2 separate regions of the Homo sapiens genome follow, and region 1 is linked to region 2. Evidence: fine-mapped expression QTL. A gene starts in region 2. The other region holds a variant in brackets. All regions are shown on one strand. Distances are between the middles of the regions. Region 1 overlaps PDZD4 (PDZ domain containing 4). Region 2 holds the start of L1CAM (L1 cell adhesion molecule).

Region 1 (8,325 bases), 65 kb before region 2:
AATTAGCAGGGCGTGGTGGCAGGCACCTGTAATCCCAACTACTTGGGAGGCTGAGGCAGGAGAACCACTGGAACCCAGGAGGTGGAGGTTGCAGTGAGCCCAGATCACACCACTGTACTCCAGCCTGGGCAACAGAGCAAGACTCCGTCTCAAACAAAAAAAGAATCATGAGATGAAGCTGGGCGTGGTGTCTCGCTCCTGTAGCCCCAAGTGGTGGAGGAGGTAGGGGGCAGGCGGTAGGGCTGAGGCAAGAGGATCACCTGAGCATTGGGAGGTCAAGGCTGCAGTGAGCCGTGATTGTGCCACTCCACTCCAGCCTGAGCAACGGACTGAGACCCTGTCTCAAAAATAATAAAAATTTAAAAATAAATAAATAAAAATTTAAAAAGCAAAAGCATGAGATGGAGGAGCTCACCTAGGGAGTGAATGTAGTCAAGAACAGGAGAGGCCCAAGGAGAGTCCTGGGGCACCCTGACACTGAGCCGGTTGGGGAGAGAGACTAGAAAGTCCCGGGAGGGAAGCCGAGGAGCTGCTCAATGCACTGGGTCGGAGCCCGGGAGGGGAGGGCGAAGGTGGGGCCTCTGGATTTGCTAAAAGGTGGGAGGGGGCCGGGTGGGGAAGCTCGACCTGCATCGACACAGCCTTCCGGAGCTTTTTGCAGAGAAGGAGCAGGTTGGGTTTTCAGGAACATCAGAGGGGCGGCTGAATACCGATGGAAGAGCAATTCGCAAGGCCAGGGAAAGTGCTGGCACCGCTTTCCCCGCATGAGGGGGACATGCGGGCAAGGGAGGGGGGACACAGGGACAGGGGAGGGGGCAACACCGGGCAGGCGAGGCAGGCATGACGCGAAGTCGGCCCCACGGGCAGTCGCTGTGGGGCGGCGATCTCCCGCTGGGCAAGGGACTGGCGGGCCTTAGGGGACGCGGGAAGCGGGGCGCCCTAGGCGGAGAGGGCGGAGCCCCAGGCGCGCTCGCCCCGCCCCCTGAGCCCGGAGCCGCAGACAAAGAGCGCGCCGCGACGGCGGCGGGGTGGCTGCGGCTGCGGGAGCAGGGCGGACCACACTCGTCCCGGCGCCGCCACGCTGGTGGCTGTATTGGCAGGACTCCTGCCCGCCCGCCCCGCCAACCCCGTCGGAGGCTGAGCTCTGTTTCCAGGCTCTGCCCCAGGCACCCTCCTGCACCCAGCGGTGGCAGGCGCACAGCCGGGTGGGGCGCGACGCCCTCTTGCTGATCAGGAATCTCTGGGAAGCCGAGAAGAGAGGCCGGAGAGGCTAAGAAAACAGTTGTGGCCTGGGAGACTCGCAATCCCAAGTGCTTGTCACACGGCGCCTGCGACCCCTTTCACTCTCACTGGCAACGCGCGGGATGGGAGGTGAAGCCACATCACTTCCAGGGGCCCCCGTGGCTGCCACGGAGGTGGGGGGGCTGCCACCTTCGGACTCCCCTTACCCCACTGCTGTAGAGTAGGAAACAAGCTGGGGAAGGACAGAGACAGGAAGTTATCCTCTGCCCGGGGCCGAGCTCTGACCTGCCTGCTGGCTCTCAGCTCTGCCGTCTGGAGTATCCAGGACACCTTGGAAGCAGTTGTGACTGTAGCTTCCAGGCCAAGTCAGGCATCGGGGGATCTCCCAACGAGTAGAGCATCAGAGGAGAAAGGAGAAGCCGCAGGCTCACTACATTCACCCACTCAGTGACCCAGCAAAGTCCCCATTCATGTTTCCCCAGCTCGGGATTTTGAAAATTGTCCGCCCACAAGCATGTGGGAACATCTGCAGATTCCCCACACCTGCTCTCGGGGTTTCTACACACACATGTGCAGAAGCATTTGAAAGCAAGATGCCATCAGTCCCATTCTCCGTGGAACCACAACACCCTTAGCACGGAATTCCGCACTCATACAATGGGCCAGCCTCACATCTCCCCAGCTGTCCCGCTAACACCCTTATAGCTTTTTTTAAAAATCTAGGATTTGAGGCTGGGCACAATGGCTCATGCCTGTAATCCCAGCACTTTGGGAGGCTGAGGCGGGCAGATCACAAGGTCAGGAGTTCGAGACCAGCATGGCCAATATGGTGAAACCCCGTCTCTACTAAAAATACAAAAATTAGCCGGGCGTGGTGGCTTGCACCTGTAGTTCCAGCTACTAGGGAGGCTGAGGCAGGAGAATCACTTGAACCCGGGTGGCGGAGGAGGTTGCAGTGAGCCGAGATCGTGCCACTGCACTCCAGCCTGGGCGACAGAGCAAGACTCCATCTCAAAAAAAAAAAAAAAAAAAAAAAAAGCGAGGCGTGGTGGTGCAGCCTATGGTCCCAGCTACTTGGGAGGCTGAGGCAGGAGAATTGATTGAACCCAGGAAGCAGAGGTTGAAGTGAGCTGAGATCACACCATCACACTCCAGCCTGGGTGACACAGAGAGACTCCATCTCAAAAACAAAACAAACAAACAAAAAATCTAGGATTCAATCAAGAAGCACACATATTACATTCGGTTGTTAGGTCTCTAGTTATTATGTCTCCTCTCTAATCTAGAAAAAAATATATATATTTTTTACTTTAATGGGAATGACTTCTTGGAAGAGACCAGTCCTTATAGAATGCGCCAGAGTCTGAATTTGCCTGATTCATTCCCGCGGTGAGATTCAGGCTGAGCGTTTTGACAAGAGCACCTTGCAGGAGATGCTGTATGTCTCCTCCCCAGCCCTGCATCTGGCGGCTGGCAGGGTCAGGCTGCCCCACTGTTGGGGAGGCTGTTTGATCACATGGTCCAGGTGGCAGCTGCCAGATCTCTCCTCTGTAAAGACGCAGTTTCCCTTCCTGATTCACAGGTAATTTGGGGTAATATTTGGAGACTTTGTGAATATTCTGTCCCCAACGACCTTACATCTAATGGTTTTGGCATCCAGTGATGATTTTTGCCTGAATTAATTACTGCATTGGTGGCTGCAAAATGTCTCCACCAACATGTTAGAATTCTAGCAGGGACAAAGAGGTGACAGGCCCGGCAAGTAGCATGGCTGCCCACGCCCCCAACTGTGGCCTCCTGGGCAAGCCACACCACCCGCTTCCATAACTCTGTGCCCACCCTTTCTGCCTGGGGGCAGGAGAGACAGAAACATGGGAGGGCTTCATCTCAAAGGCCTTTGAGCAGTTAGTCGGGGGAGGGGTGTCTGGGCGTCCATGAGAGACATGTATACCGGTAGGGGTGCCGGTGACAGGGAAGGGGGTCAGTTAGCTGCACATGGCAGGGAAGAACAAGTTATGTCCTGTAAAGCCCTCACGTAGGCAACGACTCCTGGATGTTCTGATTTACCCTCTATGTGTGTTTTTTTACCCTCTATTTGTAAACAATTTTTACCCTCTATTTGTAAAAAAAAAAAACAAAACAAACAAACAAAAAAAACAACACCTCACTTCACCACCCATGTTAATGTGGTTTGGGGCTACCATAGATCTACTCCCGGTCCCTACCCAAGGCCCTGGCTACTCACAGCCAGTGGGATCCACATCACCTGGGAGCTTGTGAGAAGTGCAGAATCCCAGGCCCCATGCTAGTGGCTCAGTCAGAAAGTGCACCTTAACAAGGACTTCGGGTGGAGGGTGGCGCTGTACTGACTCAGAGCGCGCCCTGGAGGAACCAGGGCAGACCTCAACGAAGGCCTTCTGCATGAGGGCATCTTTCTTTCCCCTCACTTCTCCTTCCCTCCCCGAAGCCCAGGGTCTGCTGAAGTCTCATCAATCCACCTGGCCCCCACCTTTCCGGGAGAGCGGCGGCCTCTCAGACACCTCCATAGTCCTGGCTCAGAAGCAGAAAGGAGGCCGGGCGCGGTGGCTCACGCCTGTAATCCCAGCATTTTGGGAGGCCGAGGCAGGCGGATCACTAGAGGTCAGGAGTTTGAGACCAGACTGGCCAACATGATGAAACCCTGTCTTTACTAAAAATACAAAAATTAGCCAGGCGTGGTGGCAGGTGCCTGTAATCCCAGCTACTCGGGAGGCTGAGGCAGAATTGCTTGAACCCAGGAGGCGGAGGCTGCAATGAGCCGAGATCACAACACTGCACTCTAGCCTGGGTGACAGAGCAAGACTCTGTCTCAAAAAAAAAAAAAAAAAAAACACACAGGAAAAGAGGGGTGTCCCACACCTTGCACAGGAAAAGCCAACCACTTCCTGAAGCCATTCTCAAGATCAACCTTCGGGTACATATTCACAGCTTTCCAGGCACGTGGCCCAGCAACTAAACCCATCCTCCCACCCACCTCAGGCTAACCTGACTGGCTAAGGGCACAGTTCACATCTAGCAACAATCAAAGCAATATTCCCTCTGCAGCGTTTTACAATCAAAGCAATATTCCCTCTGCAGCGTTTTTCATTCTCAATGCTCCAAGCAGCCATGAGGACAGGCAGAATGCACTGAAAGGGAGGACATCTTGTCCAGCCCCAGGCTGCTCAGCCTCGCCTCCTCCGGCCCAACTCCTGTGCAAAATGACCACATATGCCTCCGCTTTGTTCCCTGTCCATCTGTTTTTTCTTTCTCTCTCTCTCTCTCTCTCCCTCCCTCCCTCTCTCTCTCTCTCTTTCTCTCTGTCTTTCTTTCTTTTTTTTCCAGACACAGTCTGGCTCCATTGCCCAGGCTAGAGTGCAGTGGTACAATCACGGCTCACAGAAGCCTC[C/T]AACTCCTGGGTTCAAGCAATCCTCCCACTCAGCCTCCCCAGAAGCTGGGACTAGAGGCGCATGCCACTACGCCTGAGCAATTTTTTATTTTTGTAGAGACAAGGTCTCAATATGTTGCCCAGGCTGTCCTAACTAATATTGTACTACATCACACTTCTTCAAAACTTGGAGGTCCCTTTCCTGAGAGAAATTCTCAGAATAATATTGGACATTCTTCTGTCACTGGGCATTAACTGTGACATACCCAGATGTAAGGCCTTCTCCATATAATTTCCTTTTTCATTATTTTTTATTTAATTAATTTATTTATTTGAGACAGGGTCTCGTTCTGTCACCTAGGCTGGAGTGCAGTGGCTTGATCTTGGCTCATGCAACCTCCACCTGCTGAGTTCAAGCAGTTCTCCTGCCTCAGCCTCCCGAGTAGCTGGGACTACAGGTGCATGATGCCCAGCTAATATATATATATATATTTTTTTTTGAGATGGAGTTTCGAGCCCAAGCTGGAGTGCAATGGCGTGATCTCAGCTCACCACAACCTCCACCTCCCGGGTTCAAGCAATTCTCCTGCCTCAGCCTCCCGCGTACCTGGGATTACAGGCATGTGTCACCATGCCCGGCTAATTTTGTATTTTTAGTAGAGATGGGGTTTCTCTATGTTGGTCAGGCTGGTCTCGAACTCCTGACCTGAGGTGATCCGCCCACCTCAGCCTCCCAAAGTGCTGGGATTACAGGCGTGAGCCACCACGCCTGGTCAATTTTTTGTATTTTTAGTATAGATGGGGTTTCACCATGCTGGCCAGGCTGGTCTCGAACTCCTGACCTCATGATCCACCCGCCTCGGCCTCCCAAAGTGCTGGGATTACAGGCGTGAGCCACCGCACCCAGCCAATTTCCACTTCTTAATGACCAACTGAATGGCCCGAGGGCAGCAACTCCCTCCTCCACCCAGTGAGATCCCGGGGGACACACCATCTGTTTTCCTTGTCACAATGGCCCTCGGACGCAAGCACTCTTCACTGCCATTTCACAGTTGAGGAAACTGAGTCACTGAGCCAGTGGGCCATGCAGCGACTTGCCCCTGGCCACACAGCTGTCAGTTGGTGGCTGCCTCCATTCCTATCTCCACACTGCACTGCCTTCTCTGGCAGGGCCCCTGAAGTAGAAGGAAGGAAAGGACACCTTTCTCCCCAGGATGCGTGCATGTGGCCATGGAGTTCCTGTTCTAAAGCTTTGGTGAGGTCTGTTGCTGGGTGGTAACCTGCACATCTTCAGTGTGCAAAGGGCAGGTGTTCATATGTCATACATGAACCTGGGGAACCATCACCACCGTCAGGACAGTGGCCATTTCTATCTTCCCCAAAAGTGTCCTCATGCCCCTCTGCCCATCCCTGCAACCACGAATCTGCTCTCTGGCACTATCGAATTTCATTTCAGCAGACTGGACAGTCCTCAGGAACCCCGAGATGAGAGGGGAAAGGGCATTCTACAATCTTGGGACAATGACACAAAACAGGATGACCTGGTCCAGAAGATGGCAGTCAGAATTCAGTGTCCAGCCCTCTGTTCTTCCACTCCACAAGGACTTTCTCAGAGCCTGCTTCTTCCCCAGTCAGCTTCTGCGGCAGAACCACTGAGTTGACTGAGAGTCCAGCTTTCCCCTGGAAGGGTGGAGGCCAGCGTGGATGTGCTGGCAGCATCTGGTGCTGGTGAGGCGGGGAGGCAGAGTGCCCATGCCAGACCCAAATCCCTGCTCACAGGAAGCCCCCATGCAAGCAGGAGGGAGCCAGAGAAGCCACCTGGCTTGGTGGGTGGGAGAGCAGTTTGGAGGAAGACGTCGCTGAAGAGGGGACACTGGCTGCCAGCCACGCTCCCGCACTCAAGCAGTACTTTCTCTCCCCCGCAGTTGCCTACATGTTGGCGATGGTCTCCCCCTTACAAAAAGGGGAGCCTGGGGCCAGGCGTGGTGGCTCACTCCTGTAATCCCAGCACTTTGGGAGGCCGGTGTGGGTGGATCACCTGAGGTCGGGAGTTCAAGACCAGCCTGACCAACATGGAGAAACCCCATCTCTACTAAAAATACAAAATTAGCCAGGCATGGTGGCGCATGCCTGTAATCCCAGCTACTCGGGAGGCTGAGGCAGGAGAATCGCTTGAACCCTGGAGGCGGAGGTTTTGGTGAGCCCAGATCGTACCATTGCACTCCAGCCTGGGCAACAAGAGCGAAACTCTGTCTCAAACAACAACAACAACAACAACAAAAGGGGAGTCTGGGGGAGGGGCAAGGCCCTGTCTGCAGTGTCTCCCTGCTGAATGCCACGCACCCAGGATGGCTGCCAGCACCATGGGGGCTCACATGCAGGTGCTTTAGGCAAGAATGCCTGGGAGATCACCAGAAGGGCTGGCCAGCTGTCCTTTGGCCTCCCTCGATGTGGACAGAGGGGAGATGACAGGCGGTCCTGACCCACTCCCCCTGTAAAGCCTGAGTAGGATGGGCGGGAGACCAGTCCTAAGTACCAGGGGTTTATCCCCTGACCATCTCCGGCGTGCTCGGATGCTAGCAAGCACATCATGGTGTCAGAGAGGGGGTGCCAAGGCCAAGACAAGTTCAGCAGAGTGTGGACCACGATGAGATATATGACAAGGGGGCCTGGTGGCAGTGGAGGGACATGGGCTGCAGAAAAGGCTCCGGAGCTGGGGACATGCTGTTTCCTGCCTTCCATTCTGGGCAACCAGCCTGCTTCCTTTTCCTAACTCAACACGCAGTAATCCTCCATTTTCAGGGGAGGTCCCAGATTTTCCAAACTAGGAGGACATGATTGGAATATAGGAATGGGGCTGAGGTTCCGACATGACACACGAAAGTGCCTGTGACAACCCACATCCGTGGAATAAAGGAACCATGTGGTCATCTCACTAGCCACAGAAGCAGCACTGCACAATCCAATGCCTCTCATGATAAAAACACACTAGGAATAGAATGGGAACTTCCTTACCCTGATAAAGGACAGCTATGAAAAAGCCACAGCTAACTTTATACCCCCTAGTGAAAGACTGGAAGCTTCTTTACCTTTAAGATGAGGAACAAGGGAAAGACATTCACAGGCACTTCTATTCAACATTGTACTAGAGACTCCAGCCAGAGCAAATTAACAAGAAAAAGAAATCGAAGGGCCAGGAACGGTGGTTTACACCGGTAATCCCAGCACTTTGGGAGGCCGAGGCGGGCAGGATTGCTTGAGGCCAGGAGTTCAAGACTAGCCTGGCCAACATGGCAAAAGCTCGTCTCTGCTAAAAATACAAAAATTAGCTGGGTGTGGTAGTGTGTGCCTGTAATCCTAGCTACATGGGAAGCTGAGGCAGGAGAATCACTTGAACCCGGGAGGCGGAGGCTGCAGTGAGCCGAGATTGCACCACTGCACTCCAGTCTGGGTGACAAAGTGAGACTGTGTCTCAAAAAAAAAAAAAAAAAGAAAGAAAGAAAAGAAAAGAAATCAAAGCCATCCAGATTGGAAAGGAAGAAGAAAAACGATTTCTATTTGCCAATGACATGATCCTAATATGTAGATAATCCTGAGGAATCTACTAAACAAATTATACTTAATAAACAATTTTAGTAAGGTCGCAAGATATAGGATCAATGTATAAAAATCAATTT
Region 2 (8,325 bases):
TTTGGCCAAGTGCATGGAGCCCAGGACGCTGCCACCCTCCTGCCCCACCCAACCCCTGGCCCTCGCAGCTGCCCCTGCTGGGTGTAAGGGCCAGAGATGAGCAGGAGCTGCTGACTGACAGTGGCTGGGCACTCCCTCTGCAGCTTTCCAACCTGGGAAGAACACGGGGACCTGGGCTGGGGGCCACTGGACAAAGAAAAGCTTCTAGAAAGAACAGCGGCCAGACCCTCCCCAGCTCCTCCCTCTTTTTCCAGCCACAGCCTTCAGGAAGCCACAAAGACCCTGTTGATATCTGGGGAAGAGGCAAGCTGGGCGGGCTACCTCCCCCAGTGCTCGTCTGGCTGCTGCTCACCAGGCACCCCCCATACAGCCTTCCACTCAGACAAGGCCCCCATGGGGGGTCTGGGCCCAACCCCAAGGCGTAGAGTCCAGCAGAAGGGTGCTGAGTGGCTGCTGGACAGGGCACAACCTCAGGGCCCTCAAGGGTGAGGCAGGGGCAGCTGGGGGGGACAAGGAGAGGAGCAGAGCGGTGGAAGACAGACAAAAGGGTAAGCAGAGAGATGGAGCAGAGCCCTGACGGGAAGGGGGAAGAGGGAAGGGAGGGCCAGGCAGGCAGAGGCAGAGGGAGGAGACGGGGAGTGGTGCACCCCATCCCCGGCAGCAGCAGGCTTCTGCCTAGAAGGAGGAGGAAGGTGATGGCCCTGGGGGTGGGGCACAGGGAGACGTGGGAGGCTGCAGAGGAGAGAGCAGGGGGGCGGGGGAAGCAGGAGAAGGAGGTGTCCGAGATGGGCCAGATCAGAGCAAGTAAGACAGCGACTGCAGGGGCAGGGATGCTGCAGGCCCATTCCAGATGGCCCCACCCAGGGACCCAGCCCCAGCCCATTGCAGGGGCAGAGGACAGGGCAATGAGCACCCTGCTGGGGACCCTAGAAGGGCATCCAGACCCCCCGCCTCCCCCACTGTCTGAACCACGAGGGAGGGAGGCAGGGCCCCCACTCATGCCCCCACTCATGCCTGGCAGACCAGGGTCTTGGCTGGGATCCCCATCCTGGCAGACCTCCTCACAGGACCCCACCACTACCCCAGGTTCTCCCATGAACGTGCCCTCCTGGAGCCTGGGCCACTCTGCGAGGCCGCATCACCCTCACACCCAGAAAAGCACTCAGTGCAGCCATTTCGAGCTTTGAAAGGGAACTTGGTGATCAAGGTAGGGCACACAGGCCTGTCTCCTCGACCCTCACCTGCCAGTCCTGGCCAGGTGCATGCCAAGGAAGGCGCCAGCTGTAGTTCCAGTGGTGGAAAGGGCTCGGACCTGGGAGAGGCCGATTGGGGGCACAATCTGGGCACCCTGCTCACTGTAGGAGCCCTCAGGCCAGGCCCTTCCTCACTCTTTGCCTCCCTTTTCCCTTCAGATAATCATCAAGAAAAAAGAAAACAAGTGACACCCCACGAAGACAGGGACAATGCTGGTCCAGTTTGTCACTGGCTCTTCCATGGGCAGCCCAGAGCCCGGCCCAAAGGAGCACTGGCCATGAGCAGCTGCCCAGTACACGACTGCCCATCGCTGGGATCCTGAGCGCCTGGGTAGGGAAGCTCTTCACTGGCTGCAGGGCAGGGGACCCCGCCACCTTGAAGCGCTGATTGTCCTCCTGATGCTCAGCAGGGAGCTGGCAGCTGGGAACTTGGGGAGGAGCCTTTTAGGAGCGCGGTGTAGCAAACCAGGGAGGCTGGGGCGTGCTGAACGTGTTTCCCTCTTGGTGATCAGATCACTAGCGATTCTTAATTTCTTTTGTTCTTTTCTGTATATTTCAAGTGTCCTACAATAAGATGTATTACTTTCGGGATCATACACACACAAACATCAATAAATATGGAGAGAGACTCAGATGCAGCAGAGAGAAATGACCAGGAGCCAAGGAGGTGGGAAGGTCCCAGGCCCAACCCTGCCCCAAACTTCCCATGTGGCCAAGACAGCCGAGTCCTCAAAGGCTCTGGAGCCCTCAGGTGTGCACATGTGGGCACTGCATGGGAGCTGTGCCAGGGGAGAGGCCAGGCTGGGCCAAGTCCCACCACCTGCAGCAAGGAGCTGACGGGAGGGGAGAGGCCCTGGGGAGGCCCCCGCCCCAGAAAGATGATGCTGGGCAGCAGCCCCCAGGGGAAGAAGGGCGGACTGCACTGATTTACGTCAGGGCCACATGAGTCAGCAGAGATGGCACTGGGCTGCCCCGATGCCCCTGCCCTCAGGGTGGGGTTAACAGGGGCAGGGTATCTACCTGGGGGGTGCCAGGCCCCCACTCCTTCTGGAGAAGGGGGCAGATGGCTCTAGGCCTGCCTTCCTGAGAGGGACAGTGATAGGTGGGGGGTCCAGATACCCTGTCGGGGGCAATGGATTGTAGTGCGTGTTCTTTGCAATCCCTGCCAACCAAGAGGCCCCAAAAGTCTGACCTGGAATGGAGGGAATAGGAATCGCTGACCCCTCCCATAACCGCACAGAGATAGGAAGATGTGGCAGTGGGCAAAAGACCTGCAGTGCGCAGGGACCGCCTGAGCCAGTGAGGCCCACCTTCCCTCACCCCTACCTGATGGACCCTACCTGATGGACACCCATGCACGGGAGGCACAGCAGTGGGTGCCCGAACCGACCTCACCCACTCCAGCCCTGACTGGCCACAGAGCCTGTGGAAACGGGCTCCAGAGGCGCCCTACGCCTCCGGGGAGGAGCCCCTGGCTCTGCGGCAGGTTTTCGGGTGAGCCCGGAGGAGCCCAGGCTGGGATTTGGAAAGAAGAAGGAGGAGAACAAAGCCCCCCCAACCTTGGGGCGGAGGGGCAGGCAGCGCCCAGTCCCGTTCACTCCCCTCCCCCCATTGCAGGGGCGGCTTATCCCGATCTACCCCTCACCACGCTGTCAGCCGGGATTTTCAACCAAACTGAGCTCTCGGCTGGGGATGAGGGGCAGCCACGCCCAGGGCCACACCCCACGGCGGCCTGTGGGGGAGCGCTCGACCCGATCTGGCTTCCTTTCTCAGACACGCACACACGCACGGGGACCCGCCAACTTCAGCCCCCGCCTGCCCACACAGACCCTGCCTGACGCCCCCCGCCCTGTTCTCCCGCCCAGGCCAGCATCTGGGGCCCCGCAGGTTACCCCTCACCTGTCGGGCTCGGGCACCCGGCATCCCTCCCCCGCCCCGCTTACAGCCCGCGGTGCCCGGAGCCCGACGCCCGGCATGGGTGGGGCTCCGGCAGCAACGCCGGTTACCGCGGGCCGGACCGGGCCGGGACTCCCTGGTCCGTGCACCCCGGGCAGAGCGGTGTGGTGTCGCCGGGGGATCGCGGCCGCGGCCCGGGTCGCACGGGGAGGCCAGCCCGCCTTACCTGCGCTGCGGCCACCGCTCGGGCTGCCCGCCCAGCCTCCGCGCACGCCGGCCTCGGACCCGCCGCCCGAGCGCGTCTGCGATGCCGATGCTGCGGCAGCAGCGGCTGTGGCGGGGCGGGGCGGGCGTGCGCGCAGGGGCGGGGGAGGGGAGCGCCGGGGAGGAGAGGGAGGGAGGAGTGAGATCACCTCCCCGGCCGCCCGCCCCGCCCCGCCCCGCCCCGCCGCACCCTAGCCCCTGGTGCCAGCCGAGCGCGGCTTGGGCTGGGGGCCCCCGGGCAGCCCACTCCGGGAGCTCAGCGGGACCCCAGCCGACGGGTCCCGCCAGACCCCCTTCCCCGCAGACCGGGAGTCTCCGGCCGGAGAGTGTCCTCAGCCCCAGCGCAAGGGAGCCCGCTGTGAAAGCTCGGAGCGGGAATCGCGGGGCGAGAGTGCTCCCAGAGGCCTGGGGCCGGGCGGTGGAGAGAGGAGTCCGGCAAGGAAGGGGATGCTCCCTTAGCCTCGGCCTGGCCCTCGACGGCGCCGGCCAGCGATGGGCACCTGCACGCAACGCCCCCCCAACACACACACACAGGGCAGGACTCCCGGGACCTCTCCCGAATGCCCCCCGATCCTGAGGGCCCAGTCAGGGTCCTGTTGGGAGGGGTGCGGGGGCTTCGTCCTCAGCGTGTTGGGGAGGCGCCGCGGAGCACCGGCTCCTGCGCACCCCAGAGCCCAGGTGGGCGGCAGGGTAGGAGGCGAGCCCAGGGGAGACAGGGTCTGGGAGAGGGTATCCCTCGAACTGCCACCCCCAACTCCCAGATTTTCCTCCAGCTCTCTGGTGTCTTATTTCTTTGTCCTCGGGATTGGCCCCATTCGACCTTTCCCGCCGACTCCACTCTCTCCCACTCTCCCCCGCAGCCCTGCACAGGATCGAGAAGGAAGGAGCTCCTCCCCAGTGCCCCCTCCTAGGCTCAAGGCCATGACCTCACAGGCGAGGAAGCAAAATGGAGGGGGTAAGAATTCCGGAGCCGGCGAGCTGGCTGCAGCCTCAGGGCTAGGAAGGCCTAGGGCCCCGATGGCAGATTGCAGATCTGGCGGCCACGGTATTTTTATGGGCATGCCTGTTGCCCAGTGAAGCATTCCAGGGGCCCTCGACTCAGTCTCACAAGACTCCCCAAGTGGTGTGGGGCCCTGGAGGGCCCACATGGGAGCAGCCCTGGCATCCTGGCTTGGATGCCCCACCCCCATAGTGCCAGCTTCAGTTCCCCTGGAATGGGAAGCTTGGGGTGGACCCATCTGTGCTCAGAGAGGGTCTGGATGCCATGTTTGCCCAGCCTTTAGGAGGAGAATGGACAAGACTAGGCACCTGAGTGAAGACGGACGGCTAGGGAGACTGCTTCCAGAGTGGGGGCACTTGCAGGGCATCTTCAGGTGACAGCAGAGGAAACTGAGCCCGCCTGGGTCACGAGGCCAGCAGGCTCATGAGCTGGGCCAAGAGGGCGTACTTTCCATGAGGCACTGAGCTGTGGTCAGCTTCCTGCCTTTGCTGATCTGAACTCTGATAGGCCTCTCTCCTTTCCAGTTGCTGCCTCCACTCACTCCCTACGTTCCCAGCCTTTCCTCCAAGCCCCAACTTCTGCAAATCCTTTACCTAATCTAGGGTTTGATGCCCATCAGGATGGTGAAGTAAGCAGGGAATAGAGCCCGTTTATACGCACCTGCTAATGTGTAGTGATGGGTCCATTTATGGTAACAAAAAATTCATTACTAGGATTACACGACATCACATTTCCTGAGCACAGCCATGGACCTGCCATCGTTACATTTCCTGCACATTTAAATTGCACACCAACCTGGGGAGGTCTGTTGAAGCATTCGCCCCACGTTACAGATGAGAAAACCAAAGCCCACAGAGCTCAAGGCTGGGTCCAGCAAGCACAGTTAGGAAGGTCTCTTTCTCTCCACTGGCTCATTGCATCCACACACACACCCCAGATGATGGTGCTGTTATTATCCTCACTCTCCCAGTGAGGTACCCAAGGTCCAGAGAGGGGCAGTCATGCAACCAGGAAGAAATTGGCACTATCAGTGCCCCCATTTCACAGATGAGGAAACCAAGGTTCAGAGGGGTCAAATGACCCACCCAAGATAGCCCAGAAGGTAAATGGCAGAACTCGGACTTGAATTCCCTTCTGCTTGACCACGATGCCCATTCTCACTTCCATGTAATGAAGTGGAGGAGCCAATGGGAGCAAGAGCAAGAGTGACAGAAGACCAAGGGCAGAGCAAGTCCCAGGAGAAGCAGGAGGGACTGGCCCTGAACAAGAGGCAAGCCACCCCCCCACTGCCATGTGCTTGCTGTTGGAGGTTAGGGGGACACCAAGTAGACAGATGACTGTCTCTTTCCCTTCAACGTCAAGTGCTTCTCACAGCCCTGCTCCCTGTGACCCAGCCCTCATAGACACAGTGGACTGGACAAGGGAAGCCCCAGACTCTGACCCTGTGATGAGCATGCAGAAGACGCAGAAGCCACAGACGACAGTGGGGCAGTAAGGAAGTGCCAGCAGGCAGGCGGGGTGGGCTCAGCCAGACGTGTCTTTCTCTGTTCTCCTTTCAATCTTTCTGTGTCTTCATATCTCAGGTGTAGCGCTTGGAAACAGCACATAGTTGGGTTTTGGTTTGGTTTGATTCTGTCTAACAATTCTTGTCTTTTTAAAAATCAGCTTTGAGACCTGCCTGGGCAACACAGCGAGACCACGTCTCTACAAAAAAAATTTTAAAATTAGGCATGGTGGTGCATGTCTGTAGTCCCAACTACTCAGGAGGCTGAGGTGGGAGGATCGCTGGAGCCCAAGAGGTTGAGGCTACAGTGAGCCATGATCACACCACTACACTCCAGCCTGGGTGACAGAGTGAGACCCTGTCTCAAAAAAAAAAAAAAAAAAATCAACTTTATTGGAGTATAATTTACATACAGTAAAATTCATCCTTTTGAGGTTTACAGTTCAAGGAGTTTTGGTGAATGTTGTGTGCAGCCAACCACTCCCACCACCCCCTGCCCTTGGCCACCACTGATCTGATTTCTGTCTTTTCTAAATTTTATTATAAATGGAATCATACCGTATATATTCTTTTGTCTGGCTTCTTTCACACTCACGCAGCATACTTTTTGAGCTTCATCCATGTTGGTGTGTGTGTTTGTGTGTGTGTGTGAGAGAGAGAGAGAGAGAGCATGCGGGCGAGAGAGAGCAGTATATTTCCTTTTGATTGCCGAGTAGTATTCCATTGTTTGGTTGGATCAGGGTTTGTTCAGCCATTCACTCACTGAAGGACACTTGGGTAGTTTCCAGCTTTGTGTGATTATGATGGAGCAGCTCTAAACATTTATATGCAAGCTTGTGTAAATGTGTGTCTTCATTTCTCTAAGGTAACCGCTTAGGAGTGGATTGTTCAGTCAAGTGGTAGATTGATGTTGAACCTGCCTTTGTCTTTGAACTGTGCAGGTCAGCTGGTCACACGGTGATGACTGCTGCTATCTCTGGATGTAGTCACGCCAGGTGAGTATTTGCTTTCTATTTGTCCTGCTTTCCCCATCTCTCTCCCCCACCTCCACTTTATTATTTTTTATTAGTGTTGTTATTACTTTGAGACAGGGTCTCACTCTGTTCCCTAGGCTGGAGTGCAGTGGTGTGATCATGGCTCACTGCAACCTCGACCTCCTGGGCTCAAGTGATCCTCCCACCACAGCCTCCCAAGTACTGGGACAACAGATGTGCCACCACCACACTTGATTAATTTTTTTTTCTTTTTTGGTAGAGGTGAGGTCTCACTATGTTGTCCAGACTGGTCTTGAACTCCTGGGCTCAAGTGGTGATCCACTGCCTTGGCCTCACAAAGTGCTAGGATTACAGGAGTGAGTCACTGCACCTGGCCTCACCCCCACATTGTATCAGTGAAGGTGTGTCTGGAGTTGGTTCCTTCCAGTGGGTTCTTGGTCTCGCTGACTTCAAGAATGAAGCCGCGGACCTTCGCGGTGAGTGTTACAGCTCTTAAAGGTGGCACAGACCCAAAGTGTGAGCAGCAGCAAGATGTATTGTGAAGAGTGAAAGAACAAAGCTTCCACAGCATGGAAGAGGACCCAAGCAGGTTGCCGTTGCTTGTGGGGGGCGGGGGGGGGCCAGCTTTTATTCCCTTATTTGTCCCCTCCCATGTCCTGCTGATTAGTCCATTTTACAGAGTGCTGATTGGTCCATTTTACAGAGTGCTGATTGGTCCATTTACAATCCTCTAGCTAGACACAGAAAACTGGTGCGTTTTTACAGACTGCTGATTGGTGCATTTACAATCCTTTAGCTAGACACAGAGCGCTGATTGGTGTGTTTACAATCCTCTAGCTAGACAGAAAAGTTCTCCAAGTCCCCACATCACCCAGGAAGTCTAGCTGGCTTCACCTCTCAAAGGTTCAGGGTAGGAAGCAGAAATTCCTCCCGTGATCATGAACAGAAAGGGATTCTGTAGAAGGGATTAGATGCTTACCTGACCATTGGATGGGCCAAAGGAGTGGACTCTGGGCTAGGTGTTGATAACACCAGTGCAGACCTGGCTCCTCAAGGGAGCTGCTACCTCTGCCACCATCCACAAGATGGGGGATTGGGAGGCGGCCAGTGTAACCTTTGAGTTCAAAAAGACACCACCAAAGTCATGACCTGAGGATCAGCAAGCTGGGACCAGGAAGCCATTGCTGCCACAAGTGCCCCTCAACAACCAAGAAGTGAAGGTTAGACCCCAGAAATTCTTTGATGTCCAGCAGAAACGCAGCCCCACACAGCAGAAGTGTGGCTTCCCTTCCTTCAGTCATCCAAACTTCATGTGAGCACACCCAATTTGGCAATTGGCAAATTTGCCAATTTGCCAATTGGCAAAACTAAATTTGCTTCCCAAAGTCCAGCTGCTCTGGAGTCTGGAACATT

Evidence for each region. PIP is the estimated chance that this variant, and not a neighbour inherited with it, causes the effect.
Region 1: its variant is fine-mapped to the expression of L1CAM in T cells (TOPMed, PIP 0.98).

What each region holds. Positions count from the first base shown.
Region 1 is chrX:153,818,095-153,826,419 of GRCh38, forward strand. All of the region lies in intron 1 of PDZD4 (PDZ domain containing 4), which reads right to left. Among named protein-coding and RNA genes, the nearest start is that of PDZD4, 8.3 kb to the right of the region's middle. RefSeq lists a silencer at 951-1,110. The variant C/T (reference allele first, on the strand shown) is at 4,670.
Region 2 is chrX:153,882,690-153,891,014 of GRCh38, forward strand. It overlaps L1CAM (L1 cell adhesion molecule), which reads right to left and starts at 3,484. Exons shown (of 29, transcript NM_001278116.2): 1 at 3,376-3,484. It overlaps L1CAM-AS1 (L1CAM antisense RNA 1), which reads left to right. Exons shown (of 7, transcript NR_130768.1): 2 at 1,022-1,207; 3 at 1,259-1,584; 4 at 2,674-2,747; 5 at 3,119-3,288; 6 at 4,274-4,368; 7 at 5,808-6,301.